2 separate regions of the Homo sapiens genome follow, and region 1 is linked to region 2. A link means that fine-mapping ties the variant in region 2 to the expression of a gene that starts in the linked region. Tissue or cell type: sigmoid colon. Region 2 holds a variant in brackets; the other region holds the start of a gene. All regions are shown on one strand. Distances are from middle to middle.

Evidence for each region. PIP is the estimated chance that this variant, and not a neighbour inherited with it, causes the effect.
Region 1: it holds the start of MYOF, and the variant in region 2 is fine-mapped to the expression of MYOF in sigmoid colon (GTEx, PIP above 0.99).

The regions. Positions count from the first base shown.
Region 1 is chr10:93,477,687-93,485,793 of GRCh38, reverse strand. It overlaps MYOF (myoferlin), which reads left to right and starts at 3,460. Exons shown (of 54, transcript NM_013451.4): 1 at 3,460-3,687. The coding sequence starts at 3,600.
Region 2 is chr10:93,438,397-93,446,503 of GRCh38, reverse strand. All of the region lies in intron 3 of MYOF (myoferlin), which reads left to right. Among named protein-coding and RNA genes, the nearest start is that of MYOF, 40 kb to the left of the region's middle. The variant G/AG (reference allele first, on the strand shown) is at 3,973.

The sequences.
Region 1 (8,107 bases), 39 kb before region 2:
GCCACCAGGACTTCCCAGGCTCAAGTGGTTGTCCCACCTCAGCCTTTCAAGTAGCTGGGACCACAGGTGCATGCCACCACACTCGATTAATTTAAAAAATTTTTTTTAGAGGCAGGGTCTCACTATGTTGCCCAGGCTGGTCTCAGACTCACCTCAGCCTCCCCAAAGTGTTGAGATTACAGGTATGAACCACTGTGTCTGGGCTGAAACATGTTTTATCTTGCTTATTTAGATTTATACTCCACCTGTAATTGATTATGTATTATGTAAGGTTGGAAGTCATTTGTCTTTTTCTCCCACATGAATAGGTAAAAGGCAAATTAAAACTCCAGTGAGATGCTATTATATGCTCACCAGAAGGGCAAATGTAAAAAATCTAACATTGGTTAAGTATGACAAAAATTTAGAACAACAGGAAGTCTCATACACTGCTGGCAAGAGTACCATTGTGGAATATAATTTGGAATTACCTTGTAAAGGTGAAGAAATGCATACATTCTCTGGCCCAGCAAGCAATTCCACCCATAGATTAGACTCTAAATAGACTCATGCACATTTGTGCCAGAACAGTCTTGGACTGTTCAGAACAGCACTGTTTGTAATAGCCCCATTCCCTGAACTGTCCAAATGTCTGGCAGTAGTAGAATGAATTAATCAAATCTGGAGGCCAGGCGCAGTGGCTCATGCCTGTAATCCCAGCACTTTGGGAGGCTGAGGCAGGCGGATCACGAGGTAAAGAGTTCGAGAACATCCTGGCCAACATGGTGACACCCCATCTCTACTAAAGATACAAAAATTAGCCGGGCGTGGTGGTGTGCACCTGTAATCCCAGCTACTCAGGAGGCTGAGGCAGGAGAATTGCTTGAACCCGGGAGGCAGAGGTTGCAGTGAAACGAGATCGCACCACTGCACTCCAGCCTGGGCTACAGAGCAAGACTCTGTCTCAAAATAAATAAATAAATAAAATGTCAGAAACTCATACAATGAAATGCCATATAGCAACAAGAGTGAAGGAAGTAGAGCTACATGAATGAATTTCACAATATAATACTGAGAAAAAAGAAGTCAAACACGAAAGAATCCATTCTGTATGAGTCCATTTCTATAAAGTCATAATACAGCAAAGAATTCACAAAGTATGAACACATGTATGTGTGTACCTATATATATGAATATATGTGTTGTATGTAAAGTTCATAACATACAAAAGAATTTATATCACCAAACAAAGGTCATGAGCAAGCAAACCTAAACTGTTTTGTTGTTGTTGTTTTCGGTAAAAACTACAAAGAAAAGCAAGGAAATCATTACCATAAAAATCAGGAGAGTGGGCCAGGCATGGTGGCTCATGCCTGTAATCCCAGCACTTTGGGAGGCCGAGGTGGATGGATCACCTGAGGTCAGGAGTTTGAGACCAGCCTGGCCAACACGGTGAAACCCTGTCTCTACTAAAAATACAAAATTAGCCGGGTGTGGTAGTGCACGCCTGTAATCCCAGCTACCTGGGAGGCTGAGGCAGGAGAATTGCTTGAACCCGGGAGGTGGAGGTGGCAGTGAGCCGATCACCCCACTTCAATCCAGCCTGGGCAACAAGAGTGAAACTCCATCTAAAAAAAGAAAAAAAAATCAGGAGAGTGGTTACCTCTGGGAGAAGGAGGTGGATATGATATATGGGGTATTCCAGGGGCTTCTGGAGGACTGGCAATGTTCTGTCTTGACCTGGATGCTTGTTAAACTGTCACGTTTATGTAGTATGCATTTTTCTGTAAATATATTTCACAGTAAAAATGGCAAATAGAAAGCAGCCAGATAAAATAAAAGTAATAATCTCTATATTCCACTAAAACTGCCAACATGTCCACTAAATACAATAATGAACACAGCACTGGGTAATTGGTTCTTTGCTTTAAGCCTTGGAGAAACTCGTGGAGACAGAAGAATTCTTGTAGGTTAAGTCATGCTTATTCAATGTACTTGAAATGTTTATTTACAGGTGGGTCTGCTTGATGTGTGTTCTAAAGCAAAAAGAAGCCCAATGTTTCTTCATCCCAAGTTTTAGCCTTTTCTTCTGAAATATAACGAGATCCTGATTTAAAGTCAGCCTGCACTAACAGAAACGCTGTGAGACCACAAATAAGCATGAACTTCTTACATGTGCAAATTACTGTGTGCTTTGTGCCAGCTCCTATGCTATGACCTTTATCTTATAACAGCCTTTATCCCCAGTTCATAGATGAGGAAACTGAGGAAGAGAGGGGTTAAGAAACTTGCTCGCCAGCACGGTGGCTCAAGCCAGTAAAGCTCAAGCCAGTAAAGCTCAAGCCACGGAGGCCGAGGCGGGCGGATCACAAGGTCAAGAGATCGAGACCATCCTTGCCAGCATGGTGAAACCCCGTCTCTACTAAAAATACAAAAAAAAAAAAAATTAGCTGCGTGTGGTGGCGCACGCCTGTAGTCCCAGCTACTCGGGAGACTGAGGCAGGAGAATCGCTTGAACCCGGGAGGCAGAGGTTGCAGTGAGCCAAGATCGCTACACTGCACTCCAGCCTGGTGACAGAGCGAGACTCCGTCAAAAAAAAAAAAGAAAAGAAAAGAAAAGAAAAGAAACTTGCTAAGATGACGTAGCTCAGGGTGGTGAGGCAGAGTCTCACACTCAGATCTGGCTGACTAACCCCAGGCCGCCTCTTGTGATCTCAGCCAAGCTGCACTGTCTTCATGCACCCTCTGGGACAGAAAGACACCATGGGCAGCTGTAGGTCCAGAAACAGTGGGGAGTCACTTCTCCATTTTCACTGAAGGCAATTGGCAGCATTTGAAGAGCCGGGAAAACTTAGGCGCCCAGCTCTCACCTCTGAAGGGGTTTTGAAGAAATTCTATGTTCAGTCCTTTATATATATATATATATATATATATATATATATATATATATATATATATATATATATATAATTATTTATACATATATGTAATTATTTATATATCCCATGCCTGGATCGCGTTTACTTGAAATAAACGCTGTCATTCGTTTGCCGTCCAGTAAGAGGCACCCTTTAGCTGCTTTAAAAAAGCTGAACATAGGGTTACTGAGTGGGTGTGTTCAATGGCGTGAGAAGTAACAGCGAAAAGTCAAAAGCAAATAATGACTAAAGTTTTAAAACTCCTTGAAACTCAGAAAAGAATGAAAGCAGTGACGGAAAAATCAATTAATTCAGTTTCACGAACCATTGCTAAAAGGCAGCAACATTTTAGTGGTTTCCTGACCTACCCGTATTTCTTAGCTCCAAATTCATGTTGGTTTCATTTGTCGCACGGAATTATTTTTAGTTTAGGGTTTGTCCTTTTCACTTCCACATTTCCCGAATTCATAAGTCTGTGCCTGCGGCACTGCGTAGACGCGGGGAGTTCGGTATCAGTTTACACGTTGCCTTCAGTAAAATCCGCCAGAGGTCCACCCATTTTGCCTTTTCCCCTTCCTTGCCCTGGGAGAAATCCTCCCTTCACTGGGAGAGAACTTCTCTCCCAGGGCGGTGCGACCCGGAGCTCCAGCGCCCTAGTCTCCACTTCGTTTGCTGAAACTTGCTTTCTACCAGCTAAGAACCATGCTGCGAGTGATTGTGGAATCTGCCAGCAATATCCCTAAAACGAAATTTGGCAAGCCGGATCCTATTGTTTCTGTCATTTTTAAGGGTAAGAAAAAGTTTTCTTCTTTTTCTGAAGTCCTGTTTTGGAATGTTAGTTTCTTGAGTCACCTTCTTGAAAAGTCTGCATTTAGACAGCTGATGAAGCCAAGTCTCTCCAGCAGCGTTTGTTACCTGCGCAGGACAGGGGAGAGGACCCGTTTCTGGGGAAGGCATTTAATTTTCTCCAGGGCTTGAGACTCATGGAATGACCTGATGTTTTAGCTCTAAGAGTGTGATTTCTGTAAGCTCTTGGCAGAAAACGTATTTGCGAATCACTAAATTTCAGGTATCAACAAACATCTGTATTGGTTCAAAGTAAGTTTCAGTAGTCTTAGATGCATTTTTTCTCTGCCTGTGAGAAATGGGTAAAGGAGGAAGAAGAGCAATTAAATTGTTGGAGACACCATTACTCCTTGAACCAGCCTGACGCTGCTTTGATTGTCACTGGGTTTCTGGGAGGTGGGATGGGTGAAGTTCATAGTTTTATTGAGTTTTCCTGCCCTTTTGTGCCTTTGTAATTGTTTTTATATCTAAACTGTTGGGGAGCTTTTTTTGTACATTCTGTAGCTTTTAAATTGCTCATTGAGGAAAGAACTCTGGACAGCTAGTTTGCAATTTGGGGATCTAGTTCTATCTTGCCTGCTGAATGACCTTGGGCAAGTTACTTCATTTCTCTGGGATCTCAATTTTCTTTTCTGCAAAACAGGCGAGAAGGGTTTAGACAAGATCATCTCTAAAAACCTCATGGTTGGCTGAGCACAGTGGCTCCTCAACCCTGAGCCAACTTTGGGAGGCCAAGGCAGGAGGATTGCTTGAGCCCAGGAGTTTGAGGCTACAGTGAGCCGTGATCACGCCACTGCACTCCAGCCTGGGTGTAAAAATAAATAAAAATAAAAGGCTCATGGTAATTTTAAAAGGCTATTTTTCTATGACACTTGATTGCCATTGCAGGGGAGGGGACAGGAATGCTTGGTGTCATGGTACAATTTGATGTAAGTGACTTAGTTTTGGCTAAAGTGGGGTTTCTAAATCTCAGTGTGGAGGCTTTATCTATTTTGTTTGTCATTGGTAAGACTGCCAACTCACTTCTTGGCAAGAGGGATGGGAAAGAGAGGGAAAGGCAGAGAGAGTGGGAGCATGGATAGACATGTGTTTCCTGACCATGCCTTGCTACATTTCTCGTTTCTTCCAGGAGCCTGACTGCTACTCCCTGTCAGTTCCTGAGGCATCTATACCTTTCGCCTTTCTGTTTCCCGTTTTTCCCCTTTATTTCTCTTCTTAAACCTCTCTCTCTGAGGATGAGCAAGAAAATGAAAGAAATGAAACTCAAAGCTGGCTGGCTGGGTGTGGTGACTTCTGCCTGTAATCCCAGAACTTTGGGAGGCTGAGGTGGGTGGATCACATGAGGGCAGGAGTTCGAGACCAGCCAGGCCAACATGGCAAAACCCCATCTCTACTAAAAATACAAAAATTAGCCGGGCATGGTGGCACATGCCTATAATCCCAGCTACTCGGGAGGCTGAGGCAGGAGGATTGCTTCAACCCAGGAGGAGGAGGTTGCAGTGAGCCGAGATCATGCTACTGCACTCCAACCTGGGCAACAGAGTGAGACTCCGTCTCAAAAAAAAAAAAAAAAAAAAAAAAAAGCTGGCAAATTGTTGGTTGGTTAAAAAAAAAATCTAAAGGGCAAAAATTGGATTTAAAAAAAATTTAAAAAAATTTTTTTGAATAAGACTGGGTCTTGCTATGTTGCCCAGGCTGGTTATAATTCCCTTGCTCAAACTTTCTTCCCATCTCAGCTTCCCAAAGTGTTGGGATTACAGGCGTAAACTACCACGCCCAGCTTAAAATTGGGCTCTTAAAGGACAATGAGGTTTGAAAATCTGGCTAGTGAATATCATGGACTCACGTTATGTCAGAGTTTATTTACATGTGTTAGGTTTTATTAATTTTTTGTTTTCTTGAAGCAGTTACATAATAGAGACATAATATGAAGATTTTACATCCTTCATCATTGACATATAAAGACATTAAAATATATTTGGATCAGTCCGATCATGTAATTATTTAAGTATTATAGATTATAGAGGAATTGGAGTTAATACTATATTGAAATCTGACTTGTTATTTGTCTGGAGTTTGTATGCATTGATGAAACATTTTAAATGATGAAAAATATATCTAAGTCAATGAATGCAAACAATCAATTGAAAGTGGAAAACTTCAGTTAAGTTGGCAAATATAGTCTATACAAACAATTACACATTTAACTTTAGTCTCTTTTCTGGCCTCCTTTTTTCATACAAATCGAGTGGTAAAGTCATTCATTCATTTAGCTAACAAGCAACCTGACAGAGGAAAGGGCACTCAACTCAGAGTAGGAACATCTGCATTCCAGCTGACATTAACTCAATATCTGATTTAACCACCTGGGTCTCCAATTTCTCAGCTGTGGCATGATGGGAACTGGTCTTTAGATGCCTTCCGTCTTTTAGATTCTAATTTTCTAGTTCCAGGTATTGAGTTAGCTGCTCTCAGCAAGATGTGAAATGCATTGCCTTAGGTGCTGGAGGGGATATAGCAACAAACACAGCACTCTTCTTGCTTTCAGTCTATGTCGGTGGTTTAAAATCCTGGTGATGGCAAACCCTTTACAGGTGTGTTCCCAATTTTGAGCACTGCGTAAAATTAAGTAACATTAAGTTCTGACTGAACTGAGGATACTTATAGCAAAATACTGTCCATCAGAGGGAACATGGAACAAAGGCAGACACACTTCATAGTGTGGAGTGGGGCAGGGTATGGTAAACTGGAAAAAGCCCTACCATGCCTGTAGTCCCAGCTACTCAGGAGGCTGAGGCAGGAGAATCACTTGAGCCTGGGAGGCGGAGGTTCCAGTGAGCAGAGATCGCACCACTGCACTCCAGCCTGGGAGATAGAACGAGACTCCATCTCAAAAAAAAAAAAAGGAAAAAGCCATACCAGAAGATCAAGGCGGCATCAAAGAAAGTCCCTGTGTTAACAGAAATATGTAAACATTTTGCCTCTTGGGTAAATAAACAAAGTCAGGGCAGTAAGCAGCTCTTCTCAAACTATAAGACGGTGAAGAATGGCCAGGGGAAGTGATTGTTAATGGTGAAGCTCGCATAGACACTGTGAGGCCCTATTAGGCTATAGCTACACTGTACTTGGGATTGTGCTGTACTGACAACCAACTGGTTTACAGTTGACCTCAGTTTTTCGTGTTCAAACCCTTTCTTTCTTTCTTTCTTTTTTTTTTTTTTTTTTGAGACTGTTTCACCCTGCCATCCAGGAGGGAAGAGTGCAGTCAGTGGTGTGATCATGGTCTCGAACTCCTGGGCTCAAGCGATCCTCCCACCTCAGCCTCCTGAGTAGCTGAACTATAGGCACACACCACCATGCCCAGCTAATTTTTAATTTTTTTTGTAGAGACAGGGCCTCACTCTGTTTCTCAAGCTGGCCTTGAACTCTTGGGCTCAAGCAATCCTCCTGGCTTGGCCTCCCAAAGTATTGGGATTACAGGTATGAGCGCCCAGTTGTGTTCAACCGTGAGTGACCCTTCTGAGGCTGTCAAATTACTCAGGGCCTGGTAGGAACTAGGAGGATCTGGGGGTTGCTGTAGTCCTGGTGCATGGTTGTTGGTGATGTTCAGCAGCGCAGGTGTAGATTATGAAAGCCACAACGCTTATGTAATTTTTCATATCCTTCGGGTACACCAGGTTCCATGAGCCAGATCCGAATTGAGGCTGGAGTGAGTGCCTGTGAGCCAGGGGTGGCCATTCTGCCCTAAGTTCCATGCGGACAGCCAGGCTGTGAAGCTGAATCTAGCTGAGATTAGACTACACAGACCTCTGAGACCAATTTCAACTCTGAGACTTGATGATTCTTCCAAACAGTCCTCCAAACAGAACAGGTTGTTAAAAAACTTTTTAATTTTAAATAATATAATATTTTTAATTTCTAAAATTAAAAATGCATGTAGACATAAGATAAACAACCCAGAAGGGATTATGCAACTAAAAAGTGAAAATTCTCCCCACACCTCTTCTATTCTTTCTCTCTCCCACTGTTAGTCCTTCAGGGTCACCACTCTGAACAATTTGATTTGAATCCTTCTTGATCTTTTGCTCTAGACATATAAGTTGTCCCAACTACTGCCTGTTAGCAACAGTACTGCAGTGGGTGTCCCTGTGGTGCGTGTCTTTGTGAATATGCATATTTCATTTTTATTTATTTATTTATTTTTTAGATGGAGTCTCGCTCTGTCACCCAGGCTGGAGTGCAATGGTATGATCTCGGCTCACTGCAACCTCCACCTCCTGGGTTCAAGCGATTCTCCTGCCTCAGCCTCCTAAGTAGCTGGGATTACAGGCGCCCGCCATCACGCCCGGCTAATTTTTGTATTT
Region 2 (8,107 bases):
CTGCCAATTCTTTTCCTGTACAAAACTTACCTGTCCTGTGGCTCAGTCCTTCAAGGTCCTGCTTCAAGGCACTTTCTGAGAAATTAATCGGGTGATGCTATAATAGCTGCTAATAGTTAATTTCCCGGTAACACTGACTTTTGGACTGAAGGCCATCAGTGACTTACTTGAAGGAGTGAACAAGATGAGAACTTCAGACCCTATGGCCAGGTCATTGGAGGAGGTGTTTTCACTAAAAATTAGAACATTATCTCTCATCCTGCAGATTCCACTGCATAGTTTACTGTCTTGCAGTGGAAGGCCGACCCTGCGTCAGCTCTGTAATGAACAAGGCATGATTTCCTGCCCCTCCACCGCCTCTGCTCTTTTGTAAGCAGTGTGCCTCCCCATCCTCAGCTGGGAATCATGATCATTAGCTTAGTTTCCACCAACTAACCAATACACACACCTTGGTCAGATTACCTGTACATTTCAGAAACAAACTTTTTTTTTTTAACCATCTGGGAATAAACTATATGTGTTTTCAAAATATTTGTGTATTTTGGGCCCAGATTTTCTTTTTGGCTTTTCTACTAAAGTTCTGGCCTTTGAGGATCTGCTTACTGCTCAGTGTGGGACCGCTTCCCTCACCTGAAGTGCAGGGTTGGGGCGGAAGGGTTTTCTACAGCTTAAGGAATGTCCTGCCTGTTGACTTTCCTGTTGCCATGGCGATGGCCTGTGCAAACATGAGCCCTCACTTTGCATCTGCTGCTCCCCGGCCTATTAGCAAACAGTTCCCAGCTGCCTCGGTCAGCTGGGCTCCATGCCCACACCCGCATGGGCTAGACCCAGGCAGTCCCAGGCTCACAGCGCCTGTGGGCAGTGACACCTCCCCACCCCTCAGGCACTGGGAGCGGGTTGCCTTGTTCAGTGTGGACTCTCCTCTTCCTCACTTTACAGTCATCCAACCAGCCATTCAGAGGGAATGAGGGTGAGAAAGGAGACAGAGGAGCCTCTTGGTCACATAAGGAACATGAAATGTTATTTTTTAGAGGAAATGTCAGAGTGGAAAGATTTTCCCAGAGGCTGAAGAATGAAAGTTCCCTTTGCAGGCAGCCAATGGTTATAGCTTTGTGAGGACTTAGCATGTGCCAAGGGCTGTGCCCAGCCCTTTGCATTCATTACCCCAATTGATCCTCACACACACCTCATATGATGGGTCCTATTTTTCCTCAGAGAGGTTTAGTAACCTGCTCAAGGTCACACAGCAGGTGTGTGTTAGAGTCAGCTCATCTATATCCAGGCCTGTACACTTGACTTTTATGTTATACTGAAAGCCTCTGACTACCTATAGTAAACAAAATGTAGGTAGAATGATCAATTATCTCTGCTGAAATAGAAGTGATTTTTCTTCCTAATTTTGACAAAAAAAAATTTAATTCTCAATATCAGTGTATTGCTACCTTTTATAAGCTCCACCCTAGGTAAAAATTTTAAGCATTTTTATACTGTTGAGTAGGAAGTCACTTATGCCTATATTCTGCAATGGACCAGATATATGAAGAGACTATATCTCATCTCATTTGCTCTTCACAGTGACCTTGAGAAGTAGAGAGTAGACTTGAGCCTCAGAGGGGTGGAGGCTGGGACCCTGATCTGTTGGCATCCTGGCCCTACCCTTGAGTTCCTAAAAGTGCCATCTTCAAGAACCTGTACATGTAGAAATAAAAGATATTGACAAGTTTTCAGATTTGTGTGTCTGTGTGTATGCACACGTGGACACACATGCCCAGGAGAAAAAAGAGGTACTGCGTAGAGTTTTTGCATTTGCTGTTCCCTTTGCGTGGAATGCTCCTTCCCTCAAACTGCAATAGATGTAAAATCTTGTCATTGGGCCTCACCATGTCTGATCATCCAGCCTAGAGCAGCCCCTCCCTGTCACTCTTTATCTTATTACTCTGTTTTATTCTTCCAAAGCCCTTCTTATTAGGGAGCTCATGTGAGTGTAAGAATGGGAAAAGGAGTCTGTGTGAGCAAATACATGCTAGAATTGTGTTTTAGACAAGTACTCAGGGTATGTGCTGGTCCACACACCTGCTATATGTAGCTCAGCATTCACCACCATCTGAAATGTTCTTTTCTATTTACTTATTCATTTGTTCTCTCTCTACTGGATAGTAAACTCCATGTCACTCTTGTTCAATGCCGTAAGACCAGCACTTAGCACAGTGCCTGGCATATAGTAGGCTCTAAATAAACGTTTGTTGGATGAATGAGTGAACAAGTGAGTTTATGATGCTCCTACGTGGATGACATTTACCATTTAAGAAGCACCTTGCAGCTGTCCTGTCAGCTCACTGGTAATGGGCCACCAGTGTGGAATCTGTCCACCTCGGCTCTCTGAAACAGCACCCTAGTTCCAACTTGGGTTTAAGCTGCAAAGGGGTCAGGATACAAAGGTCAGAACACAAGAGAAACAAACCTCTCTCACAAAGCTCATGCCATTTTGTAGAGAGATGTGGAACTCAAGGCTGAGCTCACAGGAAGGCAGGAGAGCATGGTATTTGAAAGTTGGGATTCTGGAGCCAGGCAGAAGCCGATTAGAGACCCAGCTCTACTGATTACTAGTGGGTGACCTGGGCAAGTTACTTACCCTCTCCAGGCCTCAGAATTCTCATCCTTAAATTGACTGTAGTTTGGAATTGACTGTAGTTCCGTTATGCTAAGGGATTAGATTTACCCTCCCACCTGACACAACTAAAACAAAATACATGCAACAGTAGTTTTCAGATGTTGGACTTTGCTGGCACAGAACAGTGATCTCTAAGAGATGGGAGATAAATGAGGTGAGCCCTGAGAGTTCCCAGCTTAATGCCTAGAGAGACTCATTTCCATGCTGCAATGCAAGAAAAGGGATCCTTGTTGTCTCCCAGAGTTGGAGAGGTGCAGGTGGGAGTCTAGAGATGCCAAGGTTAGTCTAAAGATGCCAAGGTTACTAGTGGACCAAGAGGAGAGAAACACAGACACACACACACACACACACACACACACAGAGAGAGAGAGAGAGAGAGAGAAGAAAGAGGAGAGAAGAGAGAGGAGAGACAGAGAGAGCACTTCAGAGACTTGCAGAGAATTCCCCTTGAATCTTCAGCTGAGAACTGAGTGAGGAAACTGCTTGAGGCAGGACTAGAAAGAGTTTATGTTCCCGCCAACCGGGGGAAACACCTTGTAATTCATAGGGAAGGATTTTGCCTCCCTAATGTAGGTAGAAAACAATCAATAGAAACTGACCCAGAAATGGCACACAATCAGTAGACATGGACAGTAAAACAAGTATTATAATTCTTTAAAAAAAATTTTTTGTGAGACAGAGTCTCACTCTGTTGCCCATGCTGGAGTGCAGTGGCACGATCTCAGCTTACTGCAACCTCCGCCTCCGGGTTCAAGTGATTCTCCTACCTCAGCCTCTGGAGTAGCTGGAATTACAGGCACACGCCACCATGCCCAGCTAATTTATGTATTTTTTTTACCAGAGACGGGGTTTCACCATTTTGGCCAGGCTGGTCTCGAACTCCTGGCCTCATGTGACCCGCCCCCCTCGGCCTCCCAAAGTACTGGGATTACAGGCATAAGCCACCGTGCCCCGCTGAGTGTTGGAATTCTATTCTATAGATTCAAGAAGGTGGAGAATTGCTTGAGCATGCTAGTAGGGACATGGAAGATAATTTAAAAAAATTAACTTGGACTGCTAGAGATGACAATTACAATGTCTGAAATAAAGTGACCATAATTATCTGTCTCAGAATTTGCATGTCTAGTATTCTTTCTGCCCTCCAAATACATGTACTTGTGCATGCAAAACCACCATTATATATACTTCCACACCAATGCAGAACAAAGTTAGAAACAGTTTCTGAATATAAATCTCAAGCAAGGCATCTGTTTTGCCGTATTGTAGGAAGGAGATAACAAAAAGGCCTGACAATATACCTA[G/AG]AAGGAAATGTATTCCAGTTCTTGTGTAAGAGGTGTGGGCATGTGGCCAGCTGTACAATCATGAGATTAGACAGAACTTTGGTTTTGCTTCTTGTTGGTTGGGTGACTCTTGGCAAATTTCTTAATCTTTATAATGGGGACTGTGATACTTCCTCAATAAATAGTAGATATAGGGCAAATTTGATATAATTAAGAAAAAATTACTTCAATTTCCTGATGAACAACAAAATAGCTAATTCTTTTCTTCTAGGTTTACTGTGTGTCAGGGACGATGTTAAAACTGTTTCAGTTACAATCGCATTTAATCCTTATATCAACTATGAGTCCGTCAGACAGTCTGATCTTCAACTCACAGATGAGAAAAATGTGGCTGAAAGAGGTTCATTAAATTGTAAAAGGTCACTCAGCTCTTTAAGTGGAAGCATGTGGATTTTACATAGGTATGTTAAAATCCTCTTACACAGAGCCCAGACTTTCCAAGGTTTATTCTGTGTGTGTGTGTGTGTGTGTGTGTGTGTGTGTGTGTGTGTGTGTTCAGGTTGAGGGCCAGGGTGCTAAAACTTGAAAGTGAGAGGTTGTTCGGGGGAATATAGAATTAAAGGAAAAGGATATAGAATTAAATAAAAAAAGGAAAAGACCTAGCTTACGTTGTGAAATGTACTAACTCTCGGCCGGGCACGGTGACTCACGCCTGTAATTCTAGCACTTTGGGAGGCCGAGGCAGGTGGATCACGAGGTCAGGAGTTCGAGACCAGCCTGGCCAACATGGGCAAACCCCCGTCTCTACTAAAAATACAAATATTAGCTGCGTGTGGTGGCAAGCGCCTGTAATCCCAGCTACTCGGGAGGCTGAGGTAGGAGAATCGCTTGAATGCAGAAGGCAGAGGTTGCAGTGAGCCGAGACCGTGCCATTGCACTCCGGCCTGGGTGACAGAGTGAGACTCTGTCTCAAAAAAAAAAAAAAAAAAAAGATACAAAAATTAGCCAGGCATGGTGGCGGGCACCTGTAATCCCAGCTACTCCAGAGACTGAGGCAGGAGAATCGCTTGAATTCAAGAGGTGGAGCTTGCAATGAGCTGAGATTGCACCACTGCACTCCAGCCTGGGCAACGGCGTGAGACTCCGTCTCCAAAAAAAAAAAGAAATGTACTAACTCCCTAGCTTGTTTTAAATTAGAAAAAACAAAAGACTGCGTTTGGAATAAAATTAATTTGGTAGGGCAAAGTGTGGTATTGCTTATAAGACGTTTTTCATTCCCTAGTATATGAAATACCTTGTCTTTAAGCTTTTATTACTTTTATTTCTCCTAGTTATAAAGCTCATTTCTGACCTTGCCCCATGTAAATGTGACAGTGGGAGAAGGTGGTCTTTCTTCTCCTGGGGTTGGTTGGTGAGGAAGGATAGGATAGCCCATGGATTGAAACAGGTTCTTCTCACTGGAGTAGCTTCTCAGGCTGTACAAAAATCTAAACTAGAAGCAGATGTTACTGTGGGGCAGAACTCTCAGTTCTGATTTCTTTTTAGTTCTGTATTAGAGCAATGACACTGAAATGATCTGAGCTGGTTTGGGCTGGCTGTCTCTATACGGGGAGAGGCTGAACTGCACTTTTTGGAAGGCAGATTAAGTAGCTGCTGCAATCCTGTTGGTATCTGTTAAGATCTTGTGATTAAATAAGATTGGGCCACAGCCCTGGAGAAAGATACCCAGAGAGGCTGAAAGAGAAAGGCATCTCATAAAGGCAAGAGCTGTAATTATCTTCTGATGGCTCTTTGGCGGGTGATCTCTTAGGACAGGAAGATTTACAACCTGTAAATAATTTGCAAGGTCATTGGACTATCTTCAATGATGTATCAGCTAATTTATTCATGCCACAAATATTTACTAATGCCTACTATGTGTCAGACACAGCTCTAGACACTGGGGGTACTCCATACCTTTTATGGAGCTAACATCTGAGTAGAGGGAACAGATAAATACACATATGACATAACAGATGGTGATAAGTGATACGAAGAAAATAAAGGAAGGTAAAGGAGAGAAAACAGCAGGGTGAGGTCTGAGTGGGTGCTGGTTTAGATAGGGTTGTTGTATAAGGGTTTGTTTTGGGGGTTTTTTTTTTCGAGACGGAGTCTTGCTCTGTCGACAGGCTGGAGTGCAGTGGCACAATCCCGGCTCACTGCAACCTCTGCCTCCCGGGTTCAAGTGATTCTTCTGCCCCAGCCTCCCGAGTAGCTAGGACTACAGGCGCCCGCCACCACGCCCGACTAATTTTTTTATTTTTAGTAGAAATGGGGTTTCACCATATTGGCCAGGATGGTCTTGATCTCTTGACCTCGTGATCCACCTGCCTCGGCCTCACAAAGTGCTGGGATTACAGGCATGAGCCACTGCACCCAGCCTGGGGAATCTTTTATAATGGGTTATGAAGTTTACAGACTTCATTCAGATTCCACTAAATTGGATTTTATGAGAATTCAGCTGCAGCTGACATTTACCTCTGGTCTAACTCTGAAAAGAAAAATTGTTTCCCAAAAGGATTTGTGGTATATGTAGTATTAAGGGTGGGGAAGGGCTATTTAATGTAGGTAAGATAAAGAACTGGTTTTAAGAACTTTACATAGTGATTACATAGAAATGGATGTGGGTAGTTACAAAGGGTTCTTATCTATTCATTCATGCCCACCTGCCCAGCCCCCTGCTGATTCAGACCAGCTTTCACTGCCAAGTACTAGCCAGGAGCCCTGTCTTCATATGCTTTTTATACATCTCTTTTTCTAGCATAGTGTCTGAAATAATAATACAAGGTGACTGTTAAGCACTTGCCATATCATCCTTTTAATCCCTGCAACAATACCATTAAGTAGGAGCTGTCATTATCCCCATTTTATAGATGAGGAAACTGAAGCTCGGAGAAGTTAACCTGTACGCAGCCTGAGTCTGAATTAGTCAGGCCTGCCTGCCTCCACGTTCCTAGTCATCAGGCAAAGCTGTCCCTCCTTATCTTACAAGGTTCAAGTTCATGAAAGAGTGAATAAATGGATGGATGAAAAAACTACTACTTTGATTCTAACGGTTGAGGGAATTAACTGGAGACAGAGCATCGGAACTCCACTGAACCATCAGAGCAGGCAGGCAGGCAGGCAGGCACAGAATTGGTCAGGTGAAAATAACAAAATAGCAGGTGACCATTTCTTCAAGAAATAATATTCAGCATCTCCTCCATGCCAGAGGAGTTAGCCTGCTCCTCGCAGCCACAGACTCTGGCCTCAATGCCTCACTGACCCGGAGGGCTTTGGTGAGGAGACCTGGGCTTCCACTCAGCCCTTTGCAGGTGTTACCTGCAAAGGTAACAGTGATACCATAGTGGCCAGAGTTGCAGAGGTGGGAGGGGCTGGGAAAAAGAGCACAGTAGATGCTGGCCACGAAAATCGTGCAAATCCTGCCACAGCCTTCAGGCTATGTCAGTGATTCCAAAACCAGGGCGTGGAGTGAGCTAAAAGTAGAGGCGAGACTTGTGCCAGCCAGGTTTGGGAATCACGGTTGAGGATCAGTGTTTCTACCTTTTAAAAAGCCACACCCCCTTTCGATGAGCAGGAAAAGAGCCGCAAGGTTCTCTGGCAGTCCTGGCCTGGAGTCAGGAGCGGAAGTTCCTGGGGGGAGCGCAGGTCACTAGGCCTTCCTAGGAGGTTTTCATGGAGTTTGCCTGCTACAGTTTGTTCTATTAAATAATTGGACTTCGATGCGTGGTTCTCAAACGTGAGCCTGGATTCCCATGCTGAATGTTTTCAAAACCACTCAAGCCCCCCTCTCCCCAGATCCCGCGTTGCCTTCTGCCTTCCCTATCCCTAGCCCTCTACCTCCTCCACTTTACTCCCACAGCCATTGGGAGTCACTGTCTAGACCATTGTTTCTCGGACTTCCTGGGTATTAAGAATTACCGAAAGGAAAAAGTCGGACTCAGGGATCTGGGAATCTGCAGACGCCCTGGTGAGGGACGTCTGGGGAAGCACATTCTGAGAAATGTTTTGGGAGACGATGCGGAGGCCGAGTGAGGGTGGGCGGGCAAGTGCAAGTGGAGGGGTGAACCGAGGCGCAGCCCTTTGCGGGGATTTTACCTTAGCAATAGTTTCCTGT